Regions from separate parts of the Homo sapiens genome. Here region 2 is linked to region 1. The links come from fine-mapping of genetic effects on gene expression. Tissue or cell type: tibial nerve. Region 1 holds a variant in brackets; the other region holds the start of a gene. All regions are shown on one strand. Distances are from middle to middle.

The links. PIP is the estimated chance that this variant, and not a neighbour inherited with it, causes the effect.
Region 2: SCMH1 starts here. The variant in region 1 is fine-mapped to the expression of SCMH1 in tibial nerve (GTEx, PIP above 0.99). The same link has a PIP of 0.9 or more in aorta.

The regions. Positions count from the first base shown.
Region 1 is chr1:41,075,442-41,080,587 of GRCh38, reverse strand. SCMH1 (Scm polycomb group protein homolog 1) reads left to right here. Exons shown (of 16, transcript NM_001394311.1): 9 at 5,137-5,146. Among named protein-coding and RNA genes, the nearest start is that of SLFNL1, 56 kb to the right of the region's middle. The variant C/A (reference allele first, on the strand shown) is at 1,981.
Region 2 is chr1:41,240,281-41,245,426 of GRCh38, reverse strand. SCMH1 (Scm polycomb group protein homolog 1) reads left to right here and starts at 3,121. Exons shown (of 16, transcript NM_001394311.1): 1 at 3,121-3,368. SCMH1-DT (SCMH1 divergent transcript) reads right to left here and starts at 3,069. Exons shown (of 3, transcript NR_186015.1): 1 at 2,721-3,069. RefSeq lists silencers at 2,811-3,210, 3,251-3,800, 3,901-4,060 and an enhancer at 4,381-4,560.

The DNA.
Region 1 (5,146 bases):
CCCACTTAGTTATGATATATTATCCTGCATGTTATGATATGATATATATAGGATTGTATATCTGATATACATATAGAGAGAGACCTAGATTTAATTTACAAATACTTTGTTAAAGATTTTGGATGTATGTTCATGAGGGATATTAGTCTATAGTTTTTTTTTCTTGTAACTATCTTTGTCATGTTTTGGTATGAGGGTTATGCTGGCCTTATAAAATGAAATGGGAAGTGTTCCCTCTTCTATTTTTCAAAAGAGGCTTTGCAAGATTTGTTATTATTTCTTCTTTAAATATTTGCTAGAATTCATCAGTGAAGCCAGTTTAGGCCTGGGATTTTCTTTGTGGAAAGATTTTTAATTGCAATTGCAATTTTTTATTATGTATGAGGCTCTTCATATTCTGTTTTTTTCTTGTGTCAGTGGTATTTTTGCTTTGTTTTGTGTTTTAAGAGAGAGACTCATATATTATGTAAATAATGGAACAAACAAACAGATTTTTTAAAAATCATAATTAAAATGTTAAAATGTAAAAAAGATGAACAAAGTGTAAGAAAAAATAGTACCCACAGAAATATCTATATAAAAAATTAAATGGACATCTTATACCTAAAAAATACAGTATTAGGAATAACTCATTGCATGGGTTTAAGGGCAGACAAGAGCCAACAGAAAGGAGTAATAAACTTGATGAAAAAATAGAAAATATCCAAAATAAAGTACAGTGAGAAAATACAAAAAAAATTTAGAGCATTAGAGATAAGAGATAGAGCCTGTAATCCAGGCTGAAGTGCAGTGGTGTGATATAGCTCACTGCAACCTCGACCTGGGCTCAAGCGATCCTCTTGAGTAGCTAGGGCTACAGGCACACACCATGCTCAACTAATTTGTTTTTGTAGAGATGGGGTCTCACAGTGTTGCCCAGGCTGGTCTTGAGTGACATTTTATCTCAATTTTCATATTTAATTGGCATAAAGTTATTCATACTGTCCTGTTCTCTACCCAATGTCTGATGGATCTATGATGAAATTGTCTCTGCGTATTCTATATTTATTAGGTATATGTATCAGTTAGGTTGGTTGGTTAATTGGTTATTCATGTTATTAGTTTTCTTTTGGTTAGTGTTTATAGAGTACATTATTTTCATCTGTTTGCTTTTCTCTTCCTGTGTTTTTATATTTTGAGTGTCTTTGTATCTCAGGGCCCTCTTATAAACAAATATAATTGAGTTCTGGGGGTTTTTTTTGGTCTGGTTTGTTCATTTATTCCTACTGACTGTTTTACTTAATCCACCCTTCTTTAATAAAATTATTTATTTGGGTTTAAGTCAACATTTTGCATTTTGCTTTTTTGTTTTCTATTTGTCCAAGTTCTTCCTTATTTCTTTATTCCTCCTTTCTTGCCTTCTTTTGGATTAATCAAGTATGTTTTATTATTCTACTTCTCTCCCCTTAGCTTTTTAGTAATGCATTCTTATCCCTGATAATTCTTTAATTAATTGCCGTATGCAAATATGCATATTGGACTTATTAAAATCTACCTTAAATAAGTGCTCTAACTACTCCCAAATAATGCAAAATTCTTAACAAAGTTTGGCTCCATTTACTCTCCACTTTCATCCTCTGTGCTATTACTGTCACATAACTTATTAATACATATATTATAAACGGCACAAGCCATTTTTATTATTGTTTTAAATAATCAGTATCCTTTTGTATCAACTCACATGTTTACCCTTTCTCGTGTTCTTCATCCTTCCTGTAGTTTCATGTTTCCATTTGGAATGTCCTTCAGCCTGAAGAACTTCCTTTTCATTTTCCATAGTTAGGTCTGCTGGTGACAGATTCTCTCAACTTTGATTATTTGAAAATCTCATTATTTTACCTTTATTTCTGAAGGATATTTTCACTGGGTGTATAATTCTATCTTTGGTAGTCTGTTTCTTTTAGCCCTTTAAGGATACTATTCTACTTCTTCTTGCTTACA[C/A]AGTTTTATTAAAGAGCCTGCTATCACTCTTATTGTTGCTCCGGTAATGCTGTTTTTCTCTCTGACTGCTTTTTAAAATATATCTTTGTATTTCCTCCCTGTCTTTTATTTCATCTGTATTTCATCTTTTGTATTTTCAGCAGTTTGACAATTATGTGTTTTGGTATCGTTTTCTTTGTATTTTTCCTGCTATGGATTGCTGAATCCATAAGCATCCTGAATCTGTGGGTTGATGTCTTTCATTAGTTAGAGATTAAGTCTCCGCTGTTACCTTTTCATATATTGCTTTTTCTTCATTCTATCTGTCTTCTCCCTGTGGGATTGCAGCCACTCATATTTTGGACCTATTGACTGTGTCTACTTAATCTCTAATGCTCTAATATATTTTTTCATATTTTCTCACTGTACTTTATTTTGGATGTTTTCTATTTTTTCATCAAGTTTATTAATCCTTTCTATTGGCTCTTGTCTGTCCTTAAACCCATGCAATGAGTTATTCCTAATATTGTATTTTTTAGTTATAAGATGTCCATTTAGTTTTTTATATAGATATTTCTGTGGGTACTATCTACCTTTTCTTATATTTTGTTCATCTTTTTTACATTTTAACATTTTAATTATGATTTTTAAAAAATCTGTTTGTTTGTTCCATTATTTGGATAATATATGGGTCTCTTTCTATTGCCTGTATTTTCTCTTGATTACTGATCACACTGTTTTGACTCTGTTATGTCTAATAATTTTTGTAGTATGCCAAACGTTTTATATTAAAAGAACTATTGAGGCTCCAACTGGTATCTTCCATGAGAAAGAATTCTTCCTTTCCTCTGCTAGACTAAATAGGATAGGGCCTGATCACCTCAATCTAATTCTGGATTGAGTTAGACCACATCTGGATTGTGCCTATGGTTTATGCTTGTTTTTTGGACACGGACCCTCTTGGGCTCTTGGTTGGGAACCTAATTTCTAGCTCCTTAGCCCTGAAACACTGCAGGAGATTGTCCTACCCTTGAGAGGTCTGGGGCTTAGTTTTATTACCTCTCACCCCTTATAGTTTTAAAATATCTTTAAGAGGAGATCAGCCATGTATTTGGGGTATACTACCTACTTCTAGTGGAACCTTATCTCCTAAAACCACAAGATTATAGGAGATTTTATTCTGCCTTTTAAAAGCTCTCAGTCTAGCTTTGAAGTTCCAATGTGCTGGCCCAAAATTCAGCAGATACCCAATGAGAAAAACTGGCCACATGCAGGGGCTCCTTAAGTTTCCAGTTTGTCGCAGCAGCTCTCATTTCTCTTTCCTCCAGTAGAGCCCCTCACCACATGCCAAGCCTGATCCTTAGTTTATGCCAAAATTAGCAGATGCCCTCAGGAAAGAAAACAGTATCAGCTACCTCAGAGGCCACCCCTTGGAATTCCAGTTCATCTAATCCTCATGACAGCTCTGTGGTGTCTTCCTCATGACAGCTCTGTGGTGTCTTTTTAAATAATTACTCTGACTTTTTCTAGTTGTTGCATCGTTAACATTGTACTACCACAACTATCACTTCCTACCTGGAGGCCTAGGAAGTATTATCTTCTACCTGCCCTATATAATAGTTTATTAACTGGTCTCCCTAATTCTACTCTCGTCCCTCTCACAAAGCAGTCAGAGTGGTCCTTCTAAGTATATCTTGTCCCTCCCCTGCTCAAAACCCTCTAGTGGCTTCCCTTTATATTTAGAATAAGTTCAGTTCATTTTCACAGGCTGCAGTCCTACACAATTTTACTGCTACTCACTCTCTAACCTAATTTCTCTCTACCCTCCCCTTTGCTCACTCAGTTACAGCTCTACTGACCTCCTTTCCAATTTCTCAAACACACTAACATGTTCCTGTCTCAGACTCTTTGCACTTGTTGTTATACCCTCTCACATCTTCATAAGGCATTGTGCCTTTACCTCTTTCGGGAGCTCTGTGTAAATGTCATCTCCTCAAAGAGGACTTCCCTTAAAATTTTGTTTCCTTACCCTGCATTAATTTTAATCACAGCACTTAGCACTACCTGACATTATACCGTATATTGTGTTATTTTTTTAATTTTCTTTCTCTCTCACTAGGAGGTAAGCTCCATGAGAGTGGAAGTCTGGTTTGTTCACAGTTCTATCCCCAGAGCTTAGTACAGTGTATAACTTATAGTAAGTTCTCACTATTTGTAGGATGTCTTAGATATCCCTTACCTCAAAAAATTCTCAGTTTAAGGAAAAAATGAATAATTGGAGTAAAATTAAGAAGTACTGTAACATAGATGTCTACAGAATGCTTTGGGAGTAAAGAGAGGACACTGACCTAGTTGGGACATGGTCAGAGAAGTCCTCAATAAGGAGGTGGCCCTGGATCCAGTGTTGAAAACTGAGTATTGATATGTGTCTGACAAAGAGTAATAGAGAGCTCAACATATAAGGGCTACTAGAACATGGGGTTGGATGATAGGAAATGACATCAGTCATAATGGGAGAGCAAGATGGGCAGAGTCAAAAAAGTCCTTAGAAATCAGGTTAAAGAATTTAGACCTTACCTTAAAGGTAATAAGGAATAAAGGTTTTTAAGAGCAAAGATTTTTAAGGAGAGATGCTATCAGATTTATATTTCCACATGTTCCTCTACTCCTCACTGCAATAGTCAAACTAAAACTTCAAGTAGATTGATGTAGAAAATCCCTGGCATGGTTATCAGGGCTCAATTTTAAAACAAGTTCTTATCCCAACTCACTATGTAACCTGCGGAGGGCATTGTGTCTTGTTCTGAGCCTCAGACCTTCATTCTTAGCAGGACAGAATTACAGGTTTCTAAGAGCCCTTTCAACTCTGAGCCTATGATTCTATTAATATTTATATACTTCACCTTTGACTTAGGTCACAATATTTGTCTAAGGTGCCTTAGGAAGAAAAATTTAATATTTTTTCTGCATCTGCCAGAAATAATTTAAAACCTCCAATTCCAGCCAATCTAAATTCAGTCTTCTTCAGAGATTTCCTTAACATTTAGGTCAAATGCCAGGAAACCAGCTTCTTGGAACAAAACTACCTGAGCAGAAGTGGCAAGTCCTTTTTTTCTTCTGGCTGGGATGAGAATGCAGGGGGGAGGGAGGGTGATAGAATGAGTCTTTTTCTTGCAGTTGTGATTCC
Region 2 (5,146 bases), 160 kb before region 1:
TTATGTATTTCAATGCATCCCCCCCACACCCCGCAACACACATACTTTCTTTAAGCATCAGAAACCATCTTTCCCATTTCCTTTACCAACTCTTCTACTGGGTCATCAACAACATGAAAAAAAACAAAAACAAAAAACAAAACAAAAACTACTGTTTTTGTCAGTTCTGTCAGTGCCAGAATAATCACTCCTTTTTGCTGTAATGTAATGTAGAAAAGAGCAGACCTGGGGTTTCCTAGCATACCTCCTTTAAAAAAAAATTACATCCTGATTAACTTGCCTATTTCTTCCCTCTCCATTGCCTCTGTATTTCTTGGCTTCCCCACACCTGTAACCCAAAGGTCACAGGGTCTGTCATAGCCCAATTCCACTCTCCAGTTGCCTCTTGGTTTTTAACCCCCCTTATTAAAATCCAAACATTAAGCAACTAATAACACCCATGTGTAATTAGTTGTTTAATTGAACAGCACAGAACTGTTAATACATTATGCTGTGCCCTGGAATATTAAGTGGAATAAAAGCAAAGTACTATATTCAAGGAAACTACAGTCTGACTTAAAATACTACAATGGGAAACATTTCACACAGAGATTTTTACCAAGTGACAGTGGAGAGGAGGGAGAAATGAGTTCTTCCTGAGAAGTGTCAGAGAAGTTCTGAGCTGGATCTAAAAAAGAAGCAGGAGGCTGGGTGTGGTGGCTCACGCCTGTAATCCCAGCACTTTGGGAGGCCAAGGAGGGCGGATCACAAGGTCAGGAGATTGAGACCATCCTGGCTAACATGGTGAAACGCTGTCTCTACTAAAAATACAAAAAATTAGCTGGGCGTGGTGGCAGGCGCCTGTAGTCCCACCTACTCAGGAGGCTGAGGCAGGAGAATGGCGTGAACCCGGAAGATGGAGCTTGCAGTGAGCCGAGATCATGCCACTGCACTCCAAACTGGATGACAGAGCGAGACTCCATCTCAAAAAAAAAAAAAAGCAGGAATCCAAAGGACAATATGCATAATATTTATTTATTTTTAGCAGATGTGGGAATATCTCCCTCATGCCAAGCCTTATCTAAGGCTACAGGTGTGAATAAGGTTCCTGATCTCAAGACGCTTTCAGCCTAGAAAAGAGGTTTAGAAATATACTCCAATAATGGCAACATATATGGTGCCATGGACAGAGTTACAGAACAAACTGCTAGGGGAATTCATAGAGAAAATGTTCAAGAGAACATTTCTCACTGGACGTAGTAGGCAGAATTCTAAGGTAGCTTCCTAGATTAACCTTCATGTACACCTTCTGCATAGTCCCTGGGACAGTGGCTATGATGAATTTTACTCCTGTGATTAGGGTATGTGATGTGGCACAGGTGATCTTAAAGTAGGAAGATTATCTAGGTGGGTCTGACCTAATTACAAGTCTTTTAAAAGCTCATAGTGTTCTCTGACTGGTTGAAGAAGGGAAATCAGAGATATTTAAAGAATGAGAGGGAGTGACATGAGAAAGGTTCTCTGTTGATGAGATAAAAGGGATCACGTGGCAAGGACCTGAGAGTGGTCCCCAACAGAGAGCTGGCAAAACAGTGTAGCTGTGGGATCCTAGTCCTACAGGGACATGAATTCTGCCAACAGCCCGAAGGAGCCTGGGGCAGACCTTTCCCTCGTGGAGGTGCTAGACATCTTGATTTCAGCCTATGACACCACGAGCAGAAAACCCAGCCACACCATGCCAGTTTTCCGACCTACACAACTGTGAGTAAATCAATGGGTGTTGCTTTAAGCTGCAAAATTTGTGCCAATTTGTTATGCAGGAATAGAAAACTAATATGAGCACTTACAACACTGTGCTCTCATTAGCTATTGACATAATAGTTTCCCCAAATATGGGCTCCTTAGATTTAGGCTCTAATTATCCTTGTAACCTCAGGGCTCTTCATGAGACAGGTACTCCCCAAAACGCCATGGAATGAAAGTTTAAATTAGACAACAGGGATGCAGATCAGAACCTGGATAGATTCTGACCATTTCCATTTCTCAAGAATGGGCAGACGGATACTGACACCAATACCAGGATACAAGGAGGCGGCCCCCCTTCAGTCCAAAGCTCTAAGACCTATTCTAGAGGCAAGGCAAGTAATCCAGGCTCAGCTGCCCCATCTGCTGCTCCAGCCTTGCTTAAGTGGACTTCCCTCCAAGGAACATTGTTCACAGAAGGATCATTAACAAGACATTCCTGTGTGACCTGAGGATTGCCATGTTCTAAATGATGCCCACACCCACTCCACATCCAGCTCAGCAGAGGTCTCGGGATTTATATTGCACTGTATTTTCAAGCAGCCAAAACAGAAGTCAAGACGTCAGTTTCCTAAGCTGCTAAAATGATGTGGTGGTTAAACCAATTGTGTGCCAGGCGCAGTGGCTCACGCCTGTAGTCCCAGCGCTTTGGGAGGCTGACGCAGGAGGATCACTTGAGCCCAGTAATTTGAGGTTACAGTGAGCTATGATGGCGCCACTGCACTCCGACCTTGGGGACAAAGTGAGGCTCCATCTCTAACAAAACAAAAATAGAATTGTGTAGCCAACATGGCTGGTGGGCCTGGAAGAATGAGCCTGTGCATTGTACCTGGCCCATCACGGGCTCAGTGCGTACTCGTTGAAGGGATCACCACAGGGAGGACCGAGGACGCTGACACTCCCTAGGGCATCCAAGCACCAACTCATCTCTCACCTACCCTCCGGGTGCAGTGCTATCGTGTTGGAGAAGAGGCCCCTGGGTGGCTGTGCGAAGTAACTCGCCCAAGGTCACCACACGGCCAGCCACTAGCCCGGCGGGAGTCGCCCGAGGCGAGGCCCACGTCAGCCGGTCTTGGGGGCCCGACCGGTGGCTCCTCCACCAGCCCCACGCGGCCTCAGAGCGGGCTACTGGCGTCCTCGAGATTCGAACCCGAGTCCTCGGCCTCGTCCCCGCCCTCGCGCCCTCTCAGGCCTCAGTTTTCCCATCTACAGGACGCAGACCGGAGAGCTGGTCCGGGCGCCAACTGGGCCCCCGGACCCGGGTCGGCAGGCCGGCGGGGTACGGCCGGGCCGGGTTCCCGCGCGCCCTCCCTCCTCCAGCGCGCCGCCCCGCCCCCCGCGCGAGCCCAACGGCCGAGGCGCGCGCCACCTCGCAGCGGGAGGCGCGGGGGAGGGGCCGGGGGAGCCCCCGCCCCGCCCCCCGCCTCAGCCGCCACCGCCAGCTCGGTGGAGCCCCCCGCCGCCCGCCCGCCGCTCTCCCGAGCCGCCCGCCCGCCCCCTTCCCGCGTCTCCGCTCCCTCCCTGCGCAGCGGAAACATGGCGGCGGGAAGAGAGTGAGCCGCCCCGCGCCCCCGCCGCGCCCTCAGGTAAGCGCCTCGCGGCCGCCTCCGCCCGCCTAAGAGCTCGTGCCCTGAGGGGCCGCCTGGGGCCAGAAGGCGGTGGCGGGACCTGCGCAGCCGCTGCGCCTGCTCCCCCGGGCCGGGGTCAGCCTGTCCGTCTGTCTGGCCGGCCTGCCAGTCTGTGGTCCGCGCGGGGCTGGGCCCTTTCTCGGCCGTGTCAGCCCGGCCCCGAGCCCGGAGGCCGGCTCTGCATCTGCGGTCGGGCGGGCGGGGCCCACGGTCCGGTCGCGGCCCTGACGCCGCCAGGACTGCCCGGGGGCCCCGGCACGGGAAACCCAAGGCCGGGGGCCCTTTGGAGGGTCGGCGTGGGGGCGGTCCGTATAGGTCGCCGTGTCTGGCCGGCGGGGCCGGGTGGGCCGGGGCAGGCTGGCTGGGGGCCGAGGGCCGGGCGGCGGCGCGACCCCGTCTGCGCGGGTCAGTCGGTCCCCTCCGGCGCCAGAGGTGGGAATGCCTGTGATTCTGGCTGGCCGGGTCCCGGTTCGGGGAAGGCAGAGACAGAGGTCGACGGGGCGGCGTGGCCCCCACCGAGAGCTGGGGCGCCTAGGGCCCGGAGCTGTCAGCAGCGTCCTGGGGGCTGGGCCCCGGCTGGCCGACTCACGTGTGCCGCCTGCCCCAGTGCCCCGCCGGAAACGGGCAGGGAGAGCGGCCCCGCACCGAAGTGAGCCACAGCGGCCCTGGGGGCCAGACACGTGGGCACAGTTGTGTGCCAGCCCGAGAGCATCGAAAGTGGTATCCAGCCGATGGGTGAACCCCGGAATATCTCCTGACTGGAAGAGAATTTAAAAGTCATCTAGGGGCGCTTTCTCCCATCCCATGCCAAAGTGACTTTGAAAATCCCCAAATCCCCCCGATAATTTGACGAGCCCGTTTGGAACCTCTTCCAGTGATCCGAAGCGAATCTCTTTAAAGGAAACCCATTCTGTTCCTGGACACATTTGGTTATAAGTTGAAAGAAACAGCTGGCTCCCATCCTTCCTAGTTCTTTTCCCTTATGGGAAGCTGTTAAGATATCTGAAGATAGTAATCATGTCCCCTGAGTCTTCACTTCCACTTTCTTCAGTTGTCTCTCATCTGCTGTGGTTCTCTAAACTGTCCTCTGGATGAGCTTTAGTTTCCCCCATCCCCTTAAAGGAGAGTTTCTTAAAAGTGATCCTGGAGACAAAACGTAGTAAGTTTCTCTAAGAAACAGCCCCAAGGATTGACCTGCTTAAATCAAAAGTACTCTAGATTCCCTTCCTCATTTCTGTACTGTATTTTGAACTTAAAAAAAAAAAAAAAAGAAAACATTTAGTAGTGTTTGTTCAAACAAACTAAAAGACATCTTATTTTGTGGAAATTTGGGGGTTTCCTTCCTTTTAAAAAATGTCTATAAACACTTTATCAAATGTTGCTAACTAATGTACATCAAAATGTTTTGTTGAAGTGTAATGTGCCAGGCAAATAGAATAGCTCTTTTTTTTTTTTTAAACTCTGAAAAGGATTGAGACCTAGTTTAGTGCCAAACTGCAATTTTAATATTTGGTTGCAGAGGGAAATGCTTTATTACATTGAACTCTTTGCTCTAGTTCTAACTGCCAGCAGGAGGCCCAAAATTACTATGAAAGAGAACACTTTTTGTTGCTTACTTACCAACCTCCTAAACTCTTGCCTAAGCAACTCTGCAGGTTAGTAATGTTTTAAGCCCAGTAGAGATGAGATGGCCTTGTAGATAAAAGGCCAGGCTCTTACATCTGGGATCCTGTTTA